Linked DNA regions of Homo sapiens. The protein of the gene in region 2 interacts with the protein of the main gene of each other region in a pairwise test. Each region holds a gene or a part of one and is shown on either strand. Other genes may lie near its edges.

Evidence for each region.
Region 1: the proteins of ZNF547 (region 2) and GPATCH2L interact in binary tests that used the Homo sapiens proteins (3 or more experiments, as listed by UniProt).

Annotation. Positions count from the first base shown.
Region 1 is NC_000014.9:76,173,089-76,184,933, reverse strand, and holds part of GPATCH2L (G patch domain-containing protein 2-like), read right to left. Parts: exon of another isoform or gene 11,389-11,845; coding exon 11,309-11,388; exon of another isoform or gene 9,414-11,308; intron 8,312-9,413; coding exon 8,244-8,311; intron 7,043-8,243; coding exon of another isoform or gene 6,947-7,042; coding exon 6,892-6,946; coding exon of another isoform or gene 6,790-6,891; exon of another isoform or gene 4,912-6,789; intron 4,171-4,911; coding exon 4,085-4,170; intron 1-4,084.
Region 2 is NC_000019.10:57,354,020-57,366,687, reverse strand, and holds the start of ZNF547 (zinc finger protein 547), read right to left. Parts: upstream 3,138-12,668; 5' UTR 2,985-3,137; intron 1,874-2,984; exon of another isoform or gene 1,855-1,873; coding exon of another isoform or gene 1,432-1,854; exon of another isoform or gene 1,283-1,431; intron 1-1,282. Other genes in the region: TRAPPC2B (trafficking protein particle complex subunit 2B), read right to left, coding at 1,432-1,854; ZNF304 (zinc finger protein 304), read right to left, coding at 8,839-10,658, 11,277-11,417. UniProt on the Homo sapiens protein: May be involved in transcriptional regulation.

The DNA.
Region 1 (11,845 bases), on a different chromosome or scaffold from region 2:
CACAAAACCATATGCATTTAGGACAACAGTTCTTAACCCTGGCTGGCATATTAATCACCTAGGGAGCTTTAAAATAATGCCAATGTCTAGGCCTTATCCCAGACCAATTAAATCAGAATCTCTGGAAGTGGGGCCCAGCACGGATATATTTTCTTAAAGCTTCTTAGGTGATTCCAACTTGCAGCCAGGGTTGAAAACCACCAAGTTAACTATTTCCAGAGTGCTATTCCTGAAATCCACAAATCTATTAGATGGTACAAAGACCACAAAACTCTCCCTCCCATCCACTGCACCTGTCATCTGGGCTGTATTATAACGCTACATCAATAAAATGTTATTTTAATATTATGGTCCAATTATTTATTTGTTTATAGCAATGAAATATTAAACAAGAGAGGATTTTAGGTCATGCACCATCCTCCCAATGCCCCCCGCCCCCACCTATTCTGAGAACCAGAAGGGCATATGGTTCTAGCAGGGAGGAAACTGTTGAAAAGCCCTTGCTCTTGCTTAGGAGAATGGAATTGGCAGTGTCCAGGCAAGAAGCAGCCTCAGCTCAGTAACCTGACAGGAGGGAACCTTCATAGTTCAGGCATGATTATCAAACTCTTTGTGCTCTTAAAGGAGAGTAATTATAGGCATGTGAAAAAAGGGAAGCACTCCCTGAGGAACTCTTCCTCACATGCTTCCCAAGAGGCAGTAGGGCCATTAAAAATTCCATGATGAAGAGGAAAAACAGCCTGGGAACAGCCAGGAGGCAATACAGCAAATTAATACACCAGCCCTCCTCGGGGAAAGCTGTGATAAAACAGGAAACACTTCTCTCTTTGCAAAATAAAATTATACCACTAATGATAACATTGTCGCCACACACACACACACACACACACACACACACACACACACACACCATGCTAATGATGCATGTGAAATTTCCAATGCTGCCCAGGTGCTTTGAAAGAAATGTTTCCCTACTACAAATAAAATGGGACAAGAAAAAGACACAATTTCCACTGGAAACAGTTTTTAGTATAGTCATTCACCTGCCTCTTCCCTGCCACTACTCCTTCACACTCCTCCTTGGTGCCAGGCTTTTGCTAAATGATCCACTCTTTGCAAAGCCTACTGCCCAGTTCTGAATCCAATCTCATCAGTCTGCCACACTGGAGCTAGACGGTTCCATCTTCACTAACCCCTTGCTGGGGAGGAACGATTACAAAGGAGTGACCAGTTGCCCTGAGAGCTCAGTATGTCATCATTCACATTTTCTAAAAATTGCATAGAAGTCACTTGCGCTGATCATTTCCCATGAAGCAGTGGTTGCCAAGCTTTATTGAGGTGCACCCTCATGAGTAAAAAATCTGAAAAAAAATTATGTATGTAGTACATATACATAAAATATAAATACGTGCTACTAGACACATATGTATAATTTAAAACAAAAAAAATTTTGCTATAATTTTTTTGCTATAAATAAATGTAAGTTTAAAAATTTTCTTTCCCTTTCCCAAAGAACCTTCATGTATGCAACCCACTTGGTATCTACTGCCCTGGGTATGACGTCTAGAAGTAAGGACAAAGACGATGCATGATTGTCCACATTCTCTTTCCTTTGCTTTCAGCAATGGTCTAAAACAATAAGCAATATTACCCTAGAGCTGAGCATACCAGAAGCATAGTAGAGACTTCCTCAGGTTTCCAAGTTCAGCCACAAACACTGCCAGGCAAAAGAGTGAAGACAGTGGTATGGATAATGAGATACACAAAGAAACAAGAAGCTGATGCCTAGTCCAGCCACAGGATAAGGCTTTTAAAGGAAACAGGAAACCTGACAAAAGTACGAATACTGATCTCAGCACAGCACAGCTCTAGGTAGCAGAGGTAAAGAGAGGAGGGAAAGTAATCCACTTTCAGCATTCTGACATGATATCATGCTACTCAAATCATTTTCCCAAACAGTATACACAGACATTATTTTATTTGGTATTAAGACAAAAAGCTAAAGGACTGTTTTCCTATGGATTAAAATCCTGTTGTCTTCTATGACAGCTTGAGCACAACCACCTCTAAAAAGATCTCCCTGAGCCTTGACATTAGGGGCCCCTCCTCTGTGCTTTTTCAAACCTTTATTGTAGTTGTCAACTTCCATACCTGACTTTCCCATGAGAATGTAAGCTCCTTGAGGGCAGTATCTAAACAAAGAGCTGGCTCATAGTAGGGTTCCAGCAAACGCTGAATGAATTAATGATGAATAAACATCATGCTACTGAAGGAAAGGCCTTACTACTAATAGTTTATATCATTCCACAATTTTCCACATTCTTTTCTTTTTTTTTTTTTTTTTTTTTGAGACAGGGTCTCACTCTGTCATCCAGGCTAGAGTGCAGTGGCATCATCACAGCTCACTACAACCTTGACCTCCTGAGCTCAAGTGATCCTCCCACCTCAGCCTCCCAAGTAGCTGAGACTACAGGTGTACATCACCAGACACAAATGATTTAAAAAAAAAAAATTTTGTAGAAACAAGGTCTCACTCTGGTTCAACATTCTTTTTTTTTTTTTTTTTTTTTCTTTTCTGAGACGGGGTCTCGCTCTGTCCCCCAGGCTGGAGTGCAGTGGCGCGATCTCAGCTCACTGCAAGCTCCGCCTCCCGGGTTCACGCCATTCTCCTGCCTCAGGCTCCTGAGCAGCTGGGACTACAGGCACCCGCCAGCACACCTGGCTAATTTTTTGTATTTTTAGTAGAGACAGGTTTTCACCGTGTTAGCCAGGATGGTCTCGATCTCCTGACCTCATGATCCGCCCACCTCGGCCTCCCAAAGTGCTGGGATTACAGGCGTGAGCCACCGCGCCCGGCAGTTCAACATTCTTAATAACACCATTTGTGATGGTCTCTCTTTTCAAAAGACATTCCATACAGAAATACCACTTCTTCAGTAGAAAGACCTGGCAGTAGGTTATGGTGCAAAATTTATTATTATAGCCCATAGTAGAAGTTCTAACTGTATCCATGAAAGTAACTTCTTTGTGCAGCCTGAACCTCAAAAGCTATGAACATAACCATTTAAGAACTTATTAGGAATAAAAAAGAGTCATCAGAACCTTGGAAAGAAATTCTTTGTGCCACCAGAAACAGTACAACTTCTAGGGTCCAGCCTATTAGCTACTCTTTTCTGCATAACAGCCCTGTAGGGGGTGCTACAATTAAAACCATATTTACTTCCCATGTCACCTAAAAGAATTTATATTTGTAAGGAGTCACTCGTTTGACTAATATATGTTAATGCCTAACAAGTCCCAGATACTGTGTTAGGTGTTATGAAGTTATCAGGGAACAAGACAACATCCCAGTACTTTGAAGCTTATATTCTAGTGGGAGAGACTGAGGGATAAAGTGAAAAAGAAAAAAATTAAAAAAGAAAAACCAAACCAACTAAAATAAACTAATAAGCAAATCCAATTCAGACTGTGATAGAGCCATAAAGGAAACAAACAGATAACGAGCAGGAAGTGCTGGAGGTGGCCCCTTAGACGGGATGGTCTGAGTGGTCCTCCTTGACGAGGTGGCACCTGAGCTGAGACAAGCAGCAGCTCAAAGACAGTTTTCCAGTCAAAGGGAAGAAGTGCAAAGTTTCAGCGGCAGGAAAGGACTGCTGCAATTTTTGAAGAACAAAACAGAACTCCCTAGTACTGCTGGATCTCTCTCCCACAGAGGGAGAAAATTATACGAAAGGAGGCTGTACATGTAGGGAGAAGTCAGATTATGCAGGGTATTGCAGGCTCATGGCAAGGAACATTAATAATGTTGTTTGAAGATGGGGCTTTTAGCAGCAGAAATAAAATGAAATATGAGCCAGAAGACTTAGGTCAAAGTTGAGACTTAATCACATACTAGCCTTGGACCACAGGAAAGATACTTCACTGCTCTGCCTCAGTTTCTACATCTGTAAAACATCTATTTACCTCAAAAGATTGTCAGGATCAAATTGGATACTGTACACAAGCATACTCTATAATTTGAGGGGTAATAGAAAGGAATATAGTATTGTCCAGAAGCAAATAACCGCTACTAAAAGACAATTACCTGGCAGAGCAGTGTGCTGGTGAACACCTTCGGTGAGAAGCATCGGCAAGAACATCCAGGGAGTAAAGGGGAGACAGGGGATTGAACTGCAGGAATGAATAAGACTATTTTAGTAAGGCTTACATGAAACGGACCTGATCCTAAAGGGTAACCTACATTTGATTACTTTTCCCCTTTGACTATCCAACTCTTGTTATACCAAACACAGGCACTGTTCAGTAAAGTCACACATATTTCATAGTTTGCCTATGAATGTACCAAACCTGATCTAGCACACCTCGGAAAAAAAAAGCTATTCCTTATTAAACAACAATTTTTCAAAAACTTCTGACATACAATAGTCACTTAAATGGCAGAAGACAGTTTTTTCCACATGATATAACAGGAACTTGTGCCTGCTGATTATCAACTATGTATCAGCCCTTGTTCCCAAGAAGATTAGCATGAAATTACCTTTTCATTTCCTTATCCTGGCAAATGTTTCCAAGAATAACCGGTTGACACATAACAGCAGCATAGTATTGTGGAAAGAGAACTAGACTAAGAATCAGAACACCTTTTAGTTCCAATCTACCACTGAGATACTGGGTGTTAAAAATTACATAACCTCTGAGCTTTACTATCCTTATCTGTTAAATGAATATATCACTATCTGTCTTACCTAATCACTCCATCACCTAGGCTGGAGTGCAGTGGTGTGATCTCAGCTCACTGCAACCTCCACCTCCCGAGTTCAAAAAATTCTCCTGCCTCAGCCTCCCAAGTAGCTGGGATTACAGGCGCCTACCACCACACCCAGCTAATTTTTTTTTTTTTTTTGTATTTTTAGTAGAGACAGGGTTTCGCCATGTTGGCCAGGCTGGTCTCGAACCCCTGACCTCAGGTGATCCACCTGCCTCAGCCTCCCAAAGTGCTGGGATTACAAGCATGAGCCACTGTGCCAGGCCTGCCCTACCTATTTTACAGGGTTATTATGAGGGCTAAATGAAATATTGCTTTCAGAGTATAATTTCAGTTTCTCATCTGCAAAACATCTATTTGACTTCAAAAGGTGGCTGTGAGGATCAAAGGAGATCCCTCACTTTATGTTTGCTAGCTTTCTTTGGACTTTTCCCACAACATAACAGTCCTCTCTAAAAAGTTTAGAACTTAATACCCTCTGACATACAAAGACTGGAAGAACCCGGAATGATAACTTCAAACTTGTTTTATGAGAATACAAACTAAGCAACTGTTCTATCTGCCACAGAGGTTCCAATCTTGGTTCTATTAGCTGTATCACTTTGGGCAAATAGTTTGAATCTTACAGATCTCCAGTTCGTCATTTGCAAATAACGGATCTGGATCAGGTGACTGCCACAGGTCCCCTTCTGCCTTTGGATCCTCTGATGCAAACATGATTAGTGCTCTAGCTTAGTGTTCCCCAAACTGCAGTCTCTCACATACCACCTTCATGACTTTCCTTATCTGCCTACAACCTGTACTACTGTTTACTTATTATTTTTCCTCATATCAATTATTTTTGCTCAGCTTTGTCCTTACTATATTTCCGTGAAATAACAGGCTTGATACCATAATTACATCTTTTCCAATGTACACTATAATACATAACTTAAAAATTGGGCATCTATATGCCATCTAAAATCATCTCATACATATACACCAGTTATGTCTTCTACCACTCTAGTTCATTTTGAAACAGCAAATTCATAATGAAGATTCCAAGTCTAAAATGTGGATCGTGTATATCAACTCAGTAAGCTACTAAGTTGTTAAAAAAAAAAAACAAAAAAACCCACAACAAACAGGAAGCCTACAACTTTTCACCTGTCAGTGTTCATCTATTTTACAACTAATCACCAAGATAATGCAATCCTCCAAAAAAATCACAAAGCTTCACACATAAAGAAACATATCGATAACCACTGTGAGTTAATTTTTAAATTGTGAGCCCTCCACATGGGCCTAAATATGCCAAGGGGCCCCTCAGGGGGTAGCCAGGGAAAAGACTAAGAAGGAGAGGCTCTAAGGCAGGGGTCCCCAACCCCGGGGCCGCACAGCAGGAGGTGAGCTGTCAGCAAGCAGCTGCTCCCCATCGTGGGCATTACCGCCTGAGCTCTACCTCCTGTCAGATCAACAGCCACATTAGATTCTTATAGGAGTGCAAACCCTACTGTGAACCGAGCATGAGAGGGACCTAGGTTGTGCACACCTTATGAAAGCCTAATGCCTGATGATCTGTCATTGTTTCCCATCACCCCCAGGTGGGACTGTGTAGTTGCAGGAGCACAAGCTACATTATGACCAGTTGTATAATTATTTCATTATATATTACAATGTAATAACAACAGAAATAAAGTACACAATAAATGTAATGCATTTGAATCATCCCAAAACCACCCCCCTCACCACGCCCCCAACCCGGGTCCATGGAAAAACTGTCTTCTACAAAAATGGTTCCTGGTGACATAAGGTTGGGGACCACTGCTCTAAGGCTTTGACCCCACTTCACCCAAAGCAGCTCTACCTTCTGCTCCATACGTTTAGGCTTCAACATAGTACTTCTCAACGCAGGATTCTGATGTTGAACTAAACCATATGCAAATCAGATTCATTCTGCTTTCTTACTGCAAAGTTCAAAACTAAAATAAAAACAGGATTCCTATGAAATATATGCTACAAGAAACTAATGATCACAGTTGAACCTACAAAGAGGAATTAGCTGCAGTTTTTACCAGTAAGTGTTGGATACTCTTAGAAAACGGTTCTCCAAGAAAATCAAAATAACAAGAAAGAGGAAACCTTACCTCATGTGCACAAGCAGAAATGTGAGGAAAATCAGAAGCCAACGCTTTATTCTTTCTAAAGAAAAGGAAACCAAATGATAAAATAAAGATGACAAAGAAAAATGATCTTACCTGATTTCGTTCTCTTTTCCCAGCTGATGGTAACCAGAAACTAAAGAGAGGGAGAGAATAACAGGAAAGAAAACAATAAAAGAAGTGATAGGAAAATTACAGAAGGGAGAAGAAGATAAGATGTTGGAATAATTAAGTAAAGACAAAGAAGGGAATAGAGAAAAGATGTAATCAGAGGAGGAGAAAGAGATTAAATGTATGTGAATGTTTTGCAAAAACAAAAACAAAAAAAAACCTCTTCAAAGGAAAAAGGCTTGTAATGGAATGTAAAAGACTGAACAACAGAAATAAACCCAAGATTACACTGTGACACCAATGATCTCTCAGCTGTGCAGTGACAAGAGTCTCAACTCATGAAGGGCATAAACCACACCCACATCTTTATTTTCTATGTAAAATTAGCCCGAGTTGGATGTGTATAGGATCATAACTGGGTACTGACCATGATGCATACAAGATATATGAAAGAACCAACCATTTTAGGGGACAAGGCTGTCACAAGAATTGGCAGAATTATTTTCCTGTAGCTACATACAGGCTTCCTACAGCACTCACCACAGTAATTAGAACAAAAAGATATTTCACAGGTTGGGCGCAGCGGCTCACACCTGTAATCCCAACACTTTAGGAGGCCAAGGTGTGCAAATCGCTTGAGCCCAGGAGTTCAAGACCAGCCTGAACAACATGGCTAAACTCTGTCTCTACAAAAAATACAAAAATTAGACAGGCGCAGCAGCATGCGCCTGTAGTCCCAACTACTCAAGAGGCCAAAGTGGGAGGATTGCTTGAGCCTAGGAGGCAGAGGTTGCAGTGAGCCATGACTCTGCCACTGCACTCCAGCCTGGGCGTCAGAGCCAGACCCTGTCTCAAAAAAACAGATATTTCCCTATGAAAAGGTCTAAAAATGGGAAGAGAATATAGGAGGATAGAGGCAATCATCCATTTTGGAAAAAAAAAAATTTAGGGACAGAAAAATTAGTTTAAAATAAACATCTTTACTGGAGGCTACTAATGCAGCATCTGTAGGTATAAAAAAACAATACAGTGAAACTAGTCTAGAAAGGAAAAGAAAATCACTGCCACAGGTTTAGGATGTTGCCATATTTAACTGTTACAACGTACAAATCTTTAAGATCTCTTTGAACTCTGAAGCCTGATTTCTAAGTTGCTCCATAAAACTCCCCTCTGCCTCCTCCTCCAAGGAGCAGACTAGCACAGCCAGTAAATACATAAGCACTTACTCTTTCTGCCGAGGGTCACTAATGATATGGCTTATCCTCTCAGTCCCCAAAGTGTTTATGCTGGTCTCCTAAAAAGAAAAGGCAGACAAGAGTATCATCCAACCACAGAAACAAACATATAAAGTACAATATCAATCTTTCCCATAACTGTGCCAGCTAAGGCAACCTCAAAAGGCACATGTTAAAAGTCAATCTTAAAATAAAACAGCAACTATACTTCTTTTTATTGGAATCCATCTTAAAAGTATTACATGTTACCCTACATTTATTATTCTCCAGTGATCCAAAAGTCTTTATAAATACATCATAGACACTGTTCACCATATATGGTATTTTAATAAGTACTATACCTCCTGTAACTACTGAAGTATATAGGAGTAAAAATCCTTTTTTAGAAAATTCAACAGTAGCCAATTTTTAACAGGCCAACACACCAAGCTTCCTAGAGAGCTACGTGATTTGATTATAGTTCCAACAGCCTTCATCCTGGGACATTACCAAATCCTCACTGGTAAAATGTAAATATCTGCTGACTAAATATAAATACATCAAGAGAATTTTGTGACTTGCAAAAATTGTTACTCTGTACTTTGTCCCTCAAACATCATCTCATGAAATAAAAATAGAAATTTGTATAAAATTGATTCCTAAATTCAGGGTTCTCAAGATTATAGTGTAAAAGCTTACCCATAACACCACAAAGAGTTCAGAAACGAACCATTTCCAAAAAATTGGAAAACGGCAATTCACTCTTCATTTAACTTGAGTACATTCACAATGCTTACCTACCATGGCACCTGGGAAAGCATACCAACACACATCTGAGTAACTGTTGTGTTGAGAGAACACAAGTCACGGGCGTGAATGCCAAGAACATCAAGGCTGTTCTTCAAACACATTTGTGTCTATATTCATCTATGTGTGTGGACCGTGCTAAACATCAGGCTACACATTTCAGCAGAACTGGCTGTAGAAAAATTACTCTGAGGTCAGAGTCCGGGCGGTAGTGGAGTTAAATGAGAAGTTTTCATATACTATATTCTTCATGTTCTGCATTTCTTATAGCTATGCCTCCTGGTCACAGACAGACATGGTAGGGGGGCCAAGGGAAAAGATGGGTGAAAAATGAGCTATTTGTTACAGCAGAAAAATTATTAACTTAAAGTGCCGTAATGTTTAAATTTACAGTTTATTACTGTGTAAATTACAAGCAGTACTTTGTGTAATTAGCAGCTCACTGGCAGGGAGCTGTGAATGAAACTCATTATTTATGATTACAATTTAGAAAAGCAGAAGAGAGATGGGGGAGGGGGAAGAAGGGGGGCAGAGCGGTGACCTCTTCTAGAAATGATAAATATCCCTTTAAGGTGATGAAGATGAATTAAACAAGTAAATATTATCCTATTCATTTGAAATCATTAAAGGCACATCCAACAGGCCCTCACTCCCTTCCAGGCAAGCTAAAGGGAAACCTTCAAGATAAAGTGACTTGTTTCCATGGAAGTGGATGGCTCTTATTTTATAAGAGCTGAAAGAAAGTAACACAGGTGGCAGGGGGAACATTATCTGTCAAGCCTAAACAATAAAAGTAAAACCTCTCCTTCTTCCACCCCATGTACTGCTATTCTGCTAGCTATCCCTGTTAACAATAAGCTCCCAAAACAGAAAAAGCAGCGTTTTGTCTGTAAAATGAGTAATTTGAAAGGTATCAGTTTTCCAATAATCAAATGTCTTCTAATTCAAGATTTGAACTTGAGGCCGGGCACGGTGGCTCATGCCTGTAATCCCAGAACTTTGGGAGGCCGAGGCGGGTGGATCACCTGAGGTCAGGGGTTTGAGACCAGCCTAGCCAACATGGTAAAACCCCATCTGTACTAAAAATACAAAAAAATTAGCCAGGCATGGTGGGGCGCCTGTAATCCCAGCTACTTGGGAGGCTGAGGCAGGAGAATTGCTTGAACCTGGAAGGCAGGAAGTTACAGTGAGCCGAGATCGCACCATTGCATTCCAGCCTAGGTCACAGAGCGAGATTCCATCTCAAAAAAAAAAAAAAGATTTGAACTTGAATTTAAAGATAAAAAGAAATAAGAATCTTGGGCTCGTCTGGAAATAAACAGTCTCATTTCTTTTGCATGCTTAAAACTTCAGAAAACTGTTCCCTGGTCAGACTATAAAACAGTATCCCCTTAAGGGAAGCCAGACTGTGGCACATATTGTGCCACCTAGCAGGCATTCTAAATGCTTACCAAGTGAACAAACAAATTAATGCTCTCAATGCCTCTCCCTTCCTTATTCTTTGCCCACCACCATCTTCTCTGACTGAGGATGAGCCCTGTCTTAATTTATTCCTCAATCTCAAAGTAGAGTAAAAAATAAAATTCAATAAAAATGTAAAAAGATAAAAGTAGACCTGGGTTCAAATCTCTATTCTACCATTCCTATCTGGGTAACATCAGACATTCCTTAACTTCTTCGAACCTAAGTTTTCCTCATCTGCTGAAGGTGCTTGCCCTTGTAGGTTGCTGGAAGGATTAAATGAGCTGAGTCCCTAGTACCATCCCTGGCAAAGGCAGAACTGAATAAACAGCAGATAGTTCTCCCTCATGGCCAAGGAGGGGCTCTTGAAACTCAGTAACAGTTTTGTTTTTTTTTTTTAATGAATTCTAGGATGAAAGACCAAAATTAGGAAAGAACAAAGATGCATTCATGAATTCAAGAGGAGTCATAAAGAAGCCAAGAGTATTTTAACTTACACAATAATAACATAACATTAATCAAAAGTTACAGAAGACACAGCTCAGGCTTGTAGGTTTACAGGCAATAGACACTGTAATGACAGTGTTTTTTTTTTTTGTCAGTACTTCTATATGAATTACGTTTCATCTTTTATTTGTATATCCATTCACATTCTACATAATGTTCACTCTTGTAAACTCCCAACACATTCCAGTTGGCTCCATTAACTTCAGGGAGTTCTGTAGCACCTCTGATTGTTAATAGGATACACAACTCCCATAGGGAATATTATCTCCCCACTGAGCCAAGCTAACTGTGAGAGGTATCACCTTCCCAACCAGCCTTCTTCGCCCCTTTCTGAGGCATCGAGCTGCAGCTCCAGGTAGACGATTCAAGCGAGTATGGTACCCTAAAAAAAGAAGGAAGGCCTCAGATACCGAATGCAGAAAATCCATATGCAATCCTATGTTTCTAGTACACTGAAGGCTTTACCCCCAGGATCTTAATAGATTGACCTTTAAACTAGCATCACAGAGCTATTTGCCAAGGATTTATTATTCCCAGGTCTTTGTCACTAGCAGTATGATCACAGGCATGCCATTTACCTTTGACCTAGGCATCCTCCATCTATAAAAGAGGGATAATCACTCAGTCCTACCTTACTGGGCTGTTTTGAAGACCCAATGAAATAGCAAGCAGAAGGGACTTTATAAACTGAAAACACCACACAAACATAAGGTACTATTAATAATTTTTAATTTAAAATTAAATGTTAGTTTGTACGTCAAAAACATTCTAATTCATGACATAATGGGGAAAATAGCACGTGTCGGATAACCCAATTTTTCTCACTGCTGCATGTGTTC
Region 2 (12,668 bases):
TGTAATCCCAGCACTTTGGGAGGCTGAGGCAGGAGAATCGCTTGAAGTCAGGAGGCAGAGGTTGCAGTGAGCCAAGCGCCACTGCACTCCAGCCTGGACGACAGAGCAAAACTCCACGTCAAAAAAAAAAAAAAAAAAAACAATTTATCTGAATTGGGCAAGTCGAAAGCTTATTCCCAGCCAGGCGCAGTGGCTCACACCTGTAATCCCAGCACTCCGGGAGGCCGAGGCAGGCAGATAACCTGAGGTCAGGAGTTCAAGACCAGCCTGGCCAAAATGGCGAAACCCTGTCTCTACTAAAAATACAAAAATTAGCCAGGCGTATGCCTGTAATCCCAGCTACTCTGGAGGCGGAAGGAGAACTGCTTGAACCCGGGAGGCAGAGGCTGCAGTGAGCCAAGATCGTGCCACTGCACTCCAGCCTGCATGACAGGAGCAAGACTCCATCTCAAAAACAAAAAAACAAAAACATACACACACACACAAAAAAGCTTATTCCCAATTTTTAAGTAAAAAATATTTCATGGCCAGGCGCAGTGGCTCACACCTGTAATCCCAGCACTTTGGGAGGCCGAGGCGAGCGGATCACGAGGTCAGGAGTTCAAGACCAGCCTGACCAATATGGTGAAATCCCGTCTTTACTAAAAATACAAAAATTAGCCAGGCGTGGTGGTGCATGCCTGTAATCCTAGCTACTTGGGAGGCTGAAGAAGGAGAATTGCTTGAACCCGGGAGGTGGAGGTTGCAGTGAGCCAAGATCGTGCCACTGCACTCCAGCCCCTGCACAACAGGAGCCAGACTCCATCTCAAAAGAAAAAAAAAAAAGAAAGAAAGAAAGAAAAAGAAAGCTTATTCCCAATTTTTAAGTAAAAATATTTCATGGCCGGGAGTGGTGGCTCATGCCTGTAATCCCAGCACTTTGGGAGGCCGAGGCAGGCAGATCACGAGGTCAGGAGTTCAAGACCAGCCTGACCAACATGGCGAAACTCCGTCTCTACTAAAAATACAAAAAAAATTAGGCAGGCATGGTGGTGGGAGCCTGTAATCCCAGCTACTCGGGAGGCTGAGGCAGAATTGCTTGAACCTGGGAGGCGGAGGGTGCAGTGAGACGAGACTGTGCCACTGCACTCCAGCCTGGGCAACAAGAGCAAAACTCCGTCTCAAAAAAAAAAAAAAAAGAAAGAAATTAATTATTATTGATAATGAGTTCTTTATAAATAACATTGTTCACAAGGAAATACTAATTGATCTACTGATATGTGACATGAGACAGAATGTACTATTTTTAAATATAAAAGAAATTTCATTAAGTTTAGATAAGCTGAGAATACACAAAAGATTTCCAGGCTATTTAATCAAGTAATTTACAATGTACACATTCCTGAGTATACACCATTGTGGTGATATAATTTATTTTGGAATTTTCTCCATTCAGCTTAAAAGGTGTTTCTTCCCAAGAAACTGAACTTTTCTGTCAAATGCACTTGATCGAATAGGAGAATTGGGTTCATAAAATGGATTCATTGAAAATTTTATATATAAATCATAAACATCAGTAAAGAAGTTCTTTATTCCATCTTCTTGTCTTATGTCATGAAGCATAATAAACCTCATATGCCCCGCGGTGACAAATGCTGACACAAACCACTCGTTGAACTTGTCCACAGTTTTCAAGTACATGTTGTTCGACAGCCACATGTTCTCATCTACGAGGTCGAGAGCAGCATGAGCTATGAACTGGTTCAGATGACGATGGTCGTCTTTGGATTCTGCCTTCCCAGCTGGCAAAAACTCCATTTCAAAAACTGGATTATCATGGTGACCAACAATTACAAAGTAGAAGCTTCCAGACATGGTCTTCAATATATGGCTCCTGCAGCGGGAGGCCGACAACGGAAACGCAATGTCAGTTTCCGCGGAAGAGACCCGCGCTCCGCACCTTTTTTTGACACGGAATCTCGCTCTGTCGCCCAGGCTGGAGTGCAATGGCGCGATCTTGGCTCACTGCAATCTCCACCTCCTGGGTTCAGGCAATTCTCCTGCCTCAGCCTCCCGAATAGCTGGGATTACAGGCGCGCGTCACCACCCCCGGCTAATTTTTGTATTTTTACTAAAGACGGGGTTTCACCATGTTGGTCAGGCTGGTCTTGAACGCCTGACCTTGTGATCCGCTCGCCTTGGCCTCCCAAAGTGCTGGGATTACCGGCGTGAGCCACCACGCCCGGCCACCCTCTATTCTTTTGAAGAATCTACACCAGTTCTCCTCTGTAGACTCCACACCTTTCTGTCCCCCTACCCATGTGACATTTTCAACTTGAGACGCCTGAGAATCACACTGGCCAAACTCCAACCCATGATCTTCTCCATGAAACCTACTTCTCATGCTGCTGACTTCCCCAACTTCATTCTTTCAGATGTTCGGGCAAAAAAAAAAAAATGACCCTTCACTCCCTATTTTTGCTCACAGACATATCTGATACGGCAGGAAAACCTGTTGGCTCTATCTTCCAGGTCTATCCAGAATCCCATCACATTGTCCCTCTTATACCACGGCTCTGGTGCAGCCTCTGGGATCCACTGCAGTGGCCTCTTCTGGGTCTCTCTGTGTCAATTCCCCATCCTGCTCGTTCTAACTCTGGACCTGCCCCTCCCACTGGTCTTCCCTTGACAACCTTCCATGGTTATACCGGCTGCTCAGGCTGCCATTCCAAGAGAAAATTCACAAAACCCTCTCTTTCCCGCAGAAACAACCCACACTCCGGGCTCCCCGACGCGGCCCACTTGGCAGCACCTCCATGCTCTGAACCTGAGATCCCCGAAGGGAGCTCTGAGGCTGCATCAAACCAGCTGATACGGGGACCCCACACAGGAACGCCCCTCTCTTCGAGACAAGGGGCCTGACCTGCAGGGCCCCTTCTATGGGCTTCAGCACTGGAAGGAGGGGTCGGGCGGAGGTGGGGGGGGGCCTGGGACGGGGCACCCACCTCGGGTTCTTCGGCGGGGACTCCGCAAGTCCAGCCAGGGAAGAGAGGGGCGGGGGCGACAAAGGCAAGACAAGGACACCGCCGTCCCCAGTCCTTGTCAGCTGAGCTTCTGCCACTGTCAGTTGTGCCTGTGTCACTACCGCCTCTGCGTACAAGGAACCAAGCCGCTTCTCGCGCTTTTCCGCTCCGTCACTTCGGTGACGTCATAGAGCGCCAAAGGCCGGAACTAGTGAAAACACCAGAGAAAATCAAATCAACCACGGCAAGAGGACGCCGGAAGTCCCGCCCTCCTACGATGCGCGAGCACGAGGACGGACGCACGCACGCACGCACGCACGCAAAGGTTCCTTCCTGCACATTCATTGGGTCAGTCGCGCTGCCGAGAACCGCAGTGTCTTCTGGGTTATGAAGTTTCGACACCGCTTCTGGACTTGCCTTAGAGCGTTGGTCAGTCCTTATATGGCGGATAGAGGCTCAGTGGCACCGTCAGGGGAGCTGGTAAACAGAGTGCCGGACTCCACGGACAGGACGGGGCTTGGGTTGCTCTTAAAGGCGACATAACCAGATTTTCTTGAAGTAAGGTCTAGGATACTCACAGAAATGTGAGGGACCTATGATATCGGATTGTGAAGCACAGCAAGTTCTCAACGGCTACACCGCCAAAGGGACACACTATACCACAAAGGCACTCTGTCTCTACTCATGCCTCTCAGCCATATGTTGCTTTTCAAATACACATACAGTTAAACTTTGACTTCTATTTATTAAGCTTCAATATGGTTGGTCCAAGAGAACAAAGAAAGACTACATGGCTGGGAATTTGCACAAAAGAAGACAGGAGATACCGACGTAGATTGAAAGGGTGACGCTGTGCCTCTGGATCCAGAAGAAAACATCATTACTGTCTGTAGAGTCAGTGATTGTGTTCCTACCAAGAGTGCAATGCTTTTATTCTAATAATACTTATTACTTCATGTCTGAAATATTTTACATTTATTTTAAAAGTCTCAATCCTGTCTGAAAATGAGAGTGACTGATACATGCCATTTCCTGACAGGACATTTTGTGCCATTCCATAGTTGGAGTATATGTACACAGGGAACGTATTATCCCCAATAAAAACTGTGAACTTTCATGATCTTATCTCCTTCCTGAGAAGTGAGTTATCATTTTACAGGGAGTTGAAATTATCTGTGAAAATACTTGTGAAATGAAAATTACAGAAATCTATTAATAATAACTGTTAGGTTTTGAAGGGAAGGCGAGGGTTAAAGAAAGGCAGAGTTGGCAGCTCTACAGCAATGCAGGTTTTATGTCCAGCACGAGACCTGTGATGGGGAGAACTAGCTTAGTGCCAGAACCCCTCACTGCTTACAGGCTGGGGCAATTATAGGCCTGGATGAGAGGGGTCAGGGGTGGGGGGCAGGGGGCGCGGCGGGAGGGTATGACTTGCTGCCCAGGAGGATGGTGGGTTTTTTTTTGTTTTTGGAGGAGTCTCGCTCTTGTCGCCCAGCCTTGAGTGCAATGGCGTGATCTCGGCCCACTGCAACCTCCGCCTCCCGGAGTTCAAGCGATTCTTGAACTCCGCCTCCCGAGTAGTTGGCTTTACAGGCGCGTGCCACCACGCCCGGCTAATTTTTTTGTATTTTTAGTAGGGACAGGGTTTCACCATGTTGGTCAGGCCAGTCTGGAATTCCTGACCTCAGGTGATCCGCCCGCCTCGGCCTCCCAAATTGCTGGGATTACAGGCGTGAGCCACAGCACCCGGCCAAAGGATGTGCGTAAGATGTTCCTGAGGCAGTTTGGCCTTTTATCCGGCAGGATGTGATAGTGACCTTCCTTGGATCTTTTCCCAGAACGATGTGATAAGAAAGTCAGGCAGTTGGGCAGGATGTTTCTCAAGGCCCTCACTCCGTGGAATGCTTCACTCTGACCAAGGTCTGTGAGATGGCAGGGGGCTTACAGGATGGTGCAGTTTGGACTAACAGTGATTATGTTATTTCAAAACTAGTGGCAGAAATAGTCCTACAGAAATCTCTCTGTGACATGTGAAGGGGGGAAAAAGCAAGGTTACAGTAGAGTTTGAGCAAGAGTCTGAGAAGTCAAAGAATGAAGTTGAGACTGGCTGTGCTGGAACCTGGACACATTATGCTTCTGTCTCCTATATGTATTTCTTATTTCATACTTGAAAACATCGCTTATTAACTGTTTGGAGGGATAGAGATAACAAATGGAAACACTTGTCAAAAAATAAAAATGAAGGCCGGGTGCGGTGGCTCACGCCTGCAATCCCAGCAATTTGGGAGGCCGAGGTGGGCGGATCACGAGGTCAGGAGCTCAAGACCAGCCTGGCCAACATAGTGAAACCCTGTCTCTACTAAAAATACAAAAATTATCTGGGCATGGTGGCGGGTGCCTGTAATCCAAGCTACTTGGGAGGCTGAGGCAGGAGAATCGCTTGAACCCAGGAGGTGGAAGTTGCAGTGAGCAGAGATCGCGCCACTGCACTCCAGCCTGGGTGACAGTGCAAGACTCCGTCTCGAAAAATAAAAATAAAAATGAGTAGGCAATCTGTGTGATGATGTGTATTTACTGCTCTACAAAATGTTCAATGAGCACGTACAAACTGGGTTTCAGGTCAATGGTAGGTATATGGGACACACCGGGAATAGGGCTGCCAGCTGCTGTGTGTATACAGGACTGTTATGTGTTTCCTTAGATTCTGTATTTGTCTTTTTGGTATTCATAAATCACAGGTTCAAGCTAACAGCCAAAGTTGTTAACTTCTCTGTCTGCAAGCCACTTACTCAGAGGTGTGTGAAACTCACATAAAAAAACCCCAGCCAGGCTGGGCGCAGTGACTCACACCTGTAATCCCAGCACCTTGGGAGGCCGAGGCAGACAGATCACCTGAGGTCAGGAGTTCGAGACCAGCCTGGCCAACATGGCGAAACCCCATTTCTGCTAAAAATACAAAAATTAGCTGGGCATGGTGGCGGGTGCCTGTAGTCCCAGCTGCTTGGAAGGCTAAGGTGGGAGAATCGCTTGAACCCGGGAGGTGGAGGTTGCAGTGAGCCGAAATCATGCCACTGTACTCCAGCCTGGGCAACAGAGCAAGACTCCATTTCAAAACAAAACAAAACAACCCTGCCTTTAAAAAAGATACTTATTGTGTGTTATTAGGGAATTGCAAATAAAAGCAACAATGGCATACCACTACACACCTATTTGAATGGCATTTTAAAATCCAAAATACTGAAAATGCCAAATGCTGATTAGGATGAGATGCAAGAGGAATGTTCAATCATTGTTAGTTGGATGCAAAAATGGTACAGCCACAGCCCGTTGCAGTGGCTCACCCCCGTTATCCCAGCACTTTGGGAGGCCGAGGAGGGTGATCACTTGAGGTCAGGAGTTTGAGACCAGCCTGGCCAACATGGTAAAAACCCATGTCTACTAAAATAGGTGGAGGTTGCAGTGAACCAAGATCATACCACTGCACTCCAGCCTGGGTGACAGAGTGGAGACTCTGTCTCAAAAAATATATATAAATAAAATAAATGGTGCAGCCGCTTTGGAAGACAGCTTGGCAGTTTCTTACAAGACTAAACATGCTATATGACAGAGAAAATTGCACTCCTTGGCACATATCCAAATGAGTTGAAAACATCTCCACAGAAAAACTATACAAATATGTAGTAGGTTTATTCATAACTGCCAAAACTTGAAAGCAACCGTCCTTCAATAAGTAAATGGATAAAGAAACTGAGGTGTATTTATAGAATGGAATATCATTCAGCCATAATTTGCACACAAATCTTCAGAGGTTTATTTGTAATAGCCAAAAACTGAAAGTTACCCAAACATCCATAACAATTAAGTTGACAAAGAAGAAAAATTGTGGTATACAATGAAATACTGAAATACTACGCAGCAATACAAATGAGCAAACAATTGATTCATGCAACAAGATAATGGATTAACCTTAAAATAGTTATGTTTACTGAAAAAGCCAGAGCCCCACCCCCTAAAAAGTACACACCATATGGTTTCATTTATAAAATTATAGAAAATGCTTGCTGTTGCTTGTGAATTGTGGAAAACAAGATAAGGAAAAATTGAGGATTATAAAGGGACAATCTTTTGTTGTGTTGGATATCTTGACTGTGGTGGTTTCATAGGTGTACACACATGCTGAAACAGCACATTTTACACTTTACATATTTGCAGTTTATTGCATGTTAATCATACCTCCATAAAGCTATTAAATAAATGTTCCTCATTAAAATCTATATATACTGTTCCACTAGGAAAGTTAGATCTGTCAACTATTTTGGCTTTACCATATTCCTCTCCCTACAATTTAGGAGAGTGAGCCCTGCCTCAATGTTGGTAAAAATTGGTAAGCAATGATGTCCACATCCACCTCAGTCACTCGGAATGCTGGCTGGGTCAGAGAAGACCCATCCCTGGATCTCTCTTCTGTCACTGCTGAGGTTCCTGTCTGTGCAGGTCAACTGCCCAGGGAGACACAGGAATCCACAAACATTTAGATTATTTCCTCTGACAGTGGCCTTGGCCACAGGAGATACAGATGTCTGAAGGTCCTGAGAATTTCTATGCACTCCCATCCCACACCATCATAACTGCACCGAGACTTGTGGATGCCCCTCTAGAATGTTCGAATCTCCTTTTGTTTGCCACAGTCATCCCCACTCCATTATCTCAGTGCTTCTGTAGCAATCATGATTTTCACATTGCCCTACAGAGGTCTTACAGTCAATGTTACTTGCCTATGGGGTTCTGGATATCAGGGACTTGATCCTGTACAGGTACAGAAGACAGCAATCCCTCAACAGTGCTGGGGAGTACGTGACAGTTAAGGGACCCAACTTATGTTGCTTCCACAAGCACAGGAGATTTTCGCACCAACTATGCCCTCCTCACTGGGCTCACAGGAAATCCTGGCAGCCAGGCCACAAAGTTAGGCACAAAAATTTTTTCAGTCTTTCCTAGCAAGCCTAGGGCAATAGTGTAAATTAGGTCAAACTAGACTGAGAACAGTTTTCTGCCATCCTTTGGTCCCCTCTGAGGCACATAAAGGTGGTGCCCACAAAAGGTGCTACTCCCTTCATGACAGAACCCAATTCTTTTCTCAATCCACTCTACACAGTAACAAAATCCCCAAGAGTAAAGACTGCCACAATAGGCCCTTATCACTGTATAAATCAGAGCAGCATGGGACAAGCAGTTCCAAATTTGGGCGATTTGGCAGTAAGACAAGTAAGTCACAGCTATCACGTTTACAGTTAACATTGTCCATGAAGATGGAAAATCGTGTCAGGAAATCCCAGCAGACCCTAGCTCAGGTCCTTTTGGTGAGAGCTAGATCATGTTTGCTCAGAACCTAATCATGAGGGAAAAGATGAGGACCCTCAATGGTAGGGGGTGAAGTGGGGGGGGGGGGAAGTCCTTGAAAATATTCATGATTACCTGTAGGGAACAGGAAAGAAAGCACAGAAGTCTGCCTTCCCTGAGCAAAATGGAGTGATTGACACACACAGCTGGTAGCAATAAGATGGCTTCCGCCACAGGCACTGGCAGTGATATAATTCCATCAAGAGCTCTAGACAGTTACAAAGTGCAACACACCTCATGAAAGCCTCCCACATATGTGGTGCTTATCAGGAATCTCCCCAGGGTGGAATGAATATACGGTGCTCATCTGCTAGCTGATGGTTCCCTCACAAAGGGTACTCACAGAGCATTGCTCTGGTGTGAGTCCTATGAGGATGAACAAGATGACATATTTTCTGCATTCATAAGGCCTTTCTCTTGTGTGAATTTTCTGGTGTTAAACAAGTTTAAGAGATGCAGCTAAAGGGCCACCAAAACTGTTGCACTCGTGAGCTCTTTCTCCAGTGTGAGCTTTCTGGTGACGAACAAGATGGGAGCTTCTGCTATAGGCTTTCCCACATTCGCTGCATACGTAAGGCTTTTCTCCAGTGTGAACCCTCTGGTGCAGAATGAGGCCAGAGTTGCGGCTAAAGAATTTCCCACATTCACTGCACTCATAAGGTCTTGCTCCAGTGTGAACTTTCTTGTGTTGAACAAGGTGGGAGCTACTAATGTAAGCCTTCCCACATTCACTGCACACATAAGGCCTTGCTCCTGTGTGAACTCTCTGGTGCAAAATGAGGCTGGAGTTGTGGCTAAAGCATTTCCCACATTCATTGCACTCATAAGGCTTTGCTCCAGTGTGAATTCTCTGGTGTACAATAAGGTTGGAGCTATGGCTGAAGAATTTACCACATTCACCACACTCATAAGGCCTTTCTCCAGTGTGGATTTTTTGGTGTTGCACAAGTGTGTCTTTACGGCTGAAGGCCTTCCCACATTCACTGCACTCATAAGGCCTTGCTCCAGTGTGAATTATCTGGTGCTGAACAAGTGTGTCTTTGCAGCCAAAGGCCTTCCCACATTTGCTGCACACGTAGGATCTTGCTCCTGTGTGGACTCTCCGATGTTTAATGAGGCTAGAGTTATGGCTAAAGAATTTTCCACATTCTATGCATTCATAGGGCCTTGCCCCGGTATGAATTCTCCAGTGCTCAATAAGGTGGGAGCTTTGGCTAAAGAATTTTCCACATTCACTGCACTCATAAGGCCTTTCTCCAGTATGAAATCTCTGGTGCTGAACAAGTGTGTCTTTACGGCTAAAGGCTTTCCCACATTTGTTGCACTTATAAGGCCTTTCTCCTGTGTGAATTCTCTGGTGCTGAACAAGGTGGGAGCTTCTGCTGTAGGCTTTTCCACATTCACTGCAGTCATAAGATCTTTCTCCAGTGTGAACTCTCTGATGCTGAACAAGTGTGTCCTTGCGGCTGAAGGCCTTCCCACATTCACTGCATGTATAGTGTCTTTTTCCAGTGTGAAATTTCTGGTGCATTTTTAGGTGGTGCAAGTGAATGAAGGCTTTTCCACACTCCTTACACACATGAGATATTTCTCCACTGTGGATTTTTCTGTGATTAATAAGAGCTGATTTCTCCTTGAACACATTTCCACATGGTAGGCATCTGAAGGGTCTCACCTCAGCATGAGTCATCTGGCTGTCAAGAAGAGTAAAGGTGTCCAGGAAGGCTTTCCCTTCATCACCGCAACTGAAAAGCATCTGTCCATCATAGTCTCCTTGGTGTTGCCTGAGACTGGAGCTGTGTGGGAAAGACTCCATGCATTCAGTCCTTCTGCATGGACTCACCCTATTGTAAGTGGTCTGGTGCTGGAAAAGGCCAGAGCTATCTGGTAAGTCCATCCCTTCCTCCCTGCACGTAAAGGATCTCCCTAACATGTGGACTGTACAGCTCTTCACAAATGAGGCCCCTCCATCATCCCCTCTGAAGCAATTCTCTCCATTATGTTGCTTCTGGTGCTGGTAAAAGTTTGCACTGAACGAGAATCTTCTCCTACACAGCCCACGTGTGCACAGTTTCTGTGTAAGGTGTGATCCCTGGTGTTCAGCCAGGTGCAAAATGTCTTTCAAGAGTGGGTCACACATCTCACATGGGTGTGCTTTCTGGAAAAGACCTGACTCAGCAGTCCTGACCTGTGACACTCCTTCTACAGAAACGCTCTGCTCAGAAGGTGCCTCATGTTCTGCTTCACACCAAAAACCTGAAAGCAAAAAAGAGCTGGTGAAGTGCATGCTGACTTTGGTGGGAGGCAGCAGCCCCATCACAAATGTGTGTCTAACACCAGTGCGAGTCCACTGGCTTGTTGGCAGGACAAGAGGGCCAGGATCAGTGTAAAGAAGGGCTGGTTGTCAGTATAGGGCCTCACAGAATGGAGGAACCCTGACTATGAGGTAAAGACCTAAAAACAATGGCATAGAGTATAGGGAGTATAGGTGAAGCCTCTACCTGATTCCTCTGCAAGAGAGTTTCAGCAGGGCCTTGGCCGCTGGTGTCAGGTGAGCTCTGTGCAGATGGGTATGTCCATGCCCACGAAAATCTGACTCCAAATAAGTAGCTCATTCTCACGGACTATTTAATGTGCAGAACTCATGACACATTAAAGTAAGCTAGTGTTGAAGAGAGCAATTGAAACACGGAGGCCAGAAAAGTGGGAAAACACCCAAAGGATGGAAGACACGTGAGAAATGACAAATGGAAAAAGTGCCAAGAATGAGGAAAGTAAAGTAGATGTGAAGAATCACTATGGGCCTTGGCAACAAAACACTGACAAACACAAAACAAGTTGAAGGTTCGATTTGAACCCAACCATAACAGATACCCTCTTCCAGCTCCCATTCAGCAGGGCCATGCCCTCTGTAGGTCTCCTTTACTGTGGCTGCAGTGATGTCTGCCCTGTCAGGCACCCAAGGTTTTCTGCCCCCTCCAACTGCGCAACTGCATGGGACTGGGAAAATGAAAGCTGTAACGCAAACAAAGGGCAGGTGAGTGGCGCAGGTAGACCCACTCCACAGAGAAAATAGAATGTTTAGAAAAAATACTCTCCAAGGCGGATGTACCAGGACAGCCCTGTAATCACCACAAGAAGTGACTGTGTCAGCCCCTGAAATTCCTGGCACAGTCAGGCCCCAGGAAATGTCAGCCAGAGGATGAGGGCAGAATCTAGGACAAAGAGGTGCAAAGATCATGACACGGACTCAGGCAGTGGGCACCTGAGCTGTGTAGAATCTGCTTAGCAGACTGAAAAACTCCCGAATCCTAACCTTTTCCTGCAAAGCTCTAGGGCAACAGATGTTCAGATTACCCAGTGAAGGCAGAAACACTGAACACAGCCAGCCCTAGAACCCACAGCACCTACTCTGGGAAACAAAGAAGGGAAGGAGAAGAGTCATGGATCTGGATGGACAGAAAGAGTGGCCCATGGGGAAGAGAAGAAGACTCAAACCCCACCAAGGACACCGGAGTGGGTGTAAAGGCCTGTGGAACACAGCCTCTGAGATGGTCCCAGTGATCCCTACCTCTTGGTACTCTTGCCCCTGTGTAAGCCTCCTCACTTGATTGTAAGCTGGATGGACTTACTTATTTCCAAGGAATAGAATATGGCAAAAATAATGAAATGACACTTTCAAGATTAGGTTACAATCCTGGGCTTCCATCTTGAACATTCTTTTGGTCACTTGCTCAAAGAGAAGTTAGCTTCTGTGTCATAAGGTACAATACAGACAGGCCACCTGAGGGAGGACTTTGGCCAACAGCCAGCAAGGAACAGTGCTCACAGTCCAACAAGCCACAAGAAACTAAATCTTGCAAAAAGCAATGTGAGTGAGCTTGTAAGTGGATTCTTCTCAGGTAAGACCACAACACTGGCTGAGAGCTTGATTAAAACTTCATGAGAGCCAAAAGCACCTGCATAAGAAGGTGTGATCAGGCTGGGCACACTGGCTCAAGCCTGTAATCCCAGCACTTTGGGAGGCCAAGGAGGAAGGATCGCTTGAGGTCAGGAGCTCTAGACCAGCCTGGGCAACGTAGCAAGACCTTATCTCTACAAAAAGTAAAATAGCCGGGCGTGGTGGCATGCACCTATAGTCCCAGCTACTCAGGAGGGTGAGGTGGGGGGGATCACTTGAGCCCAAGAATTTGAGGCTGCAGTGAACCATGATCACAACACTGCACTGTAGCCTGGGTGACAGAGTAAGACTCTCTGAAAAAACAA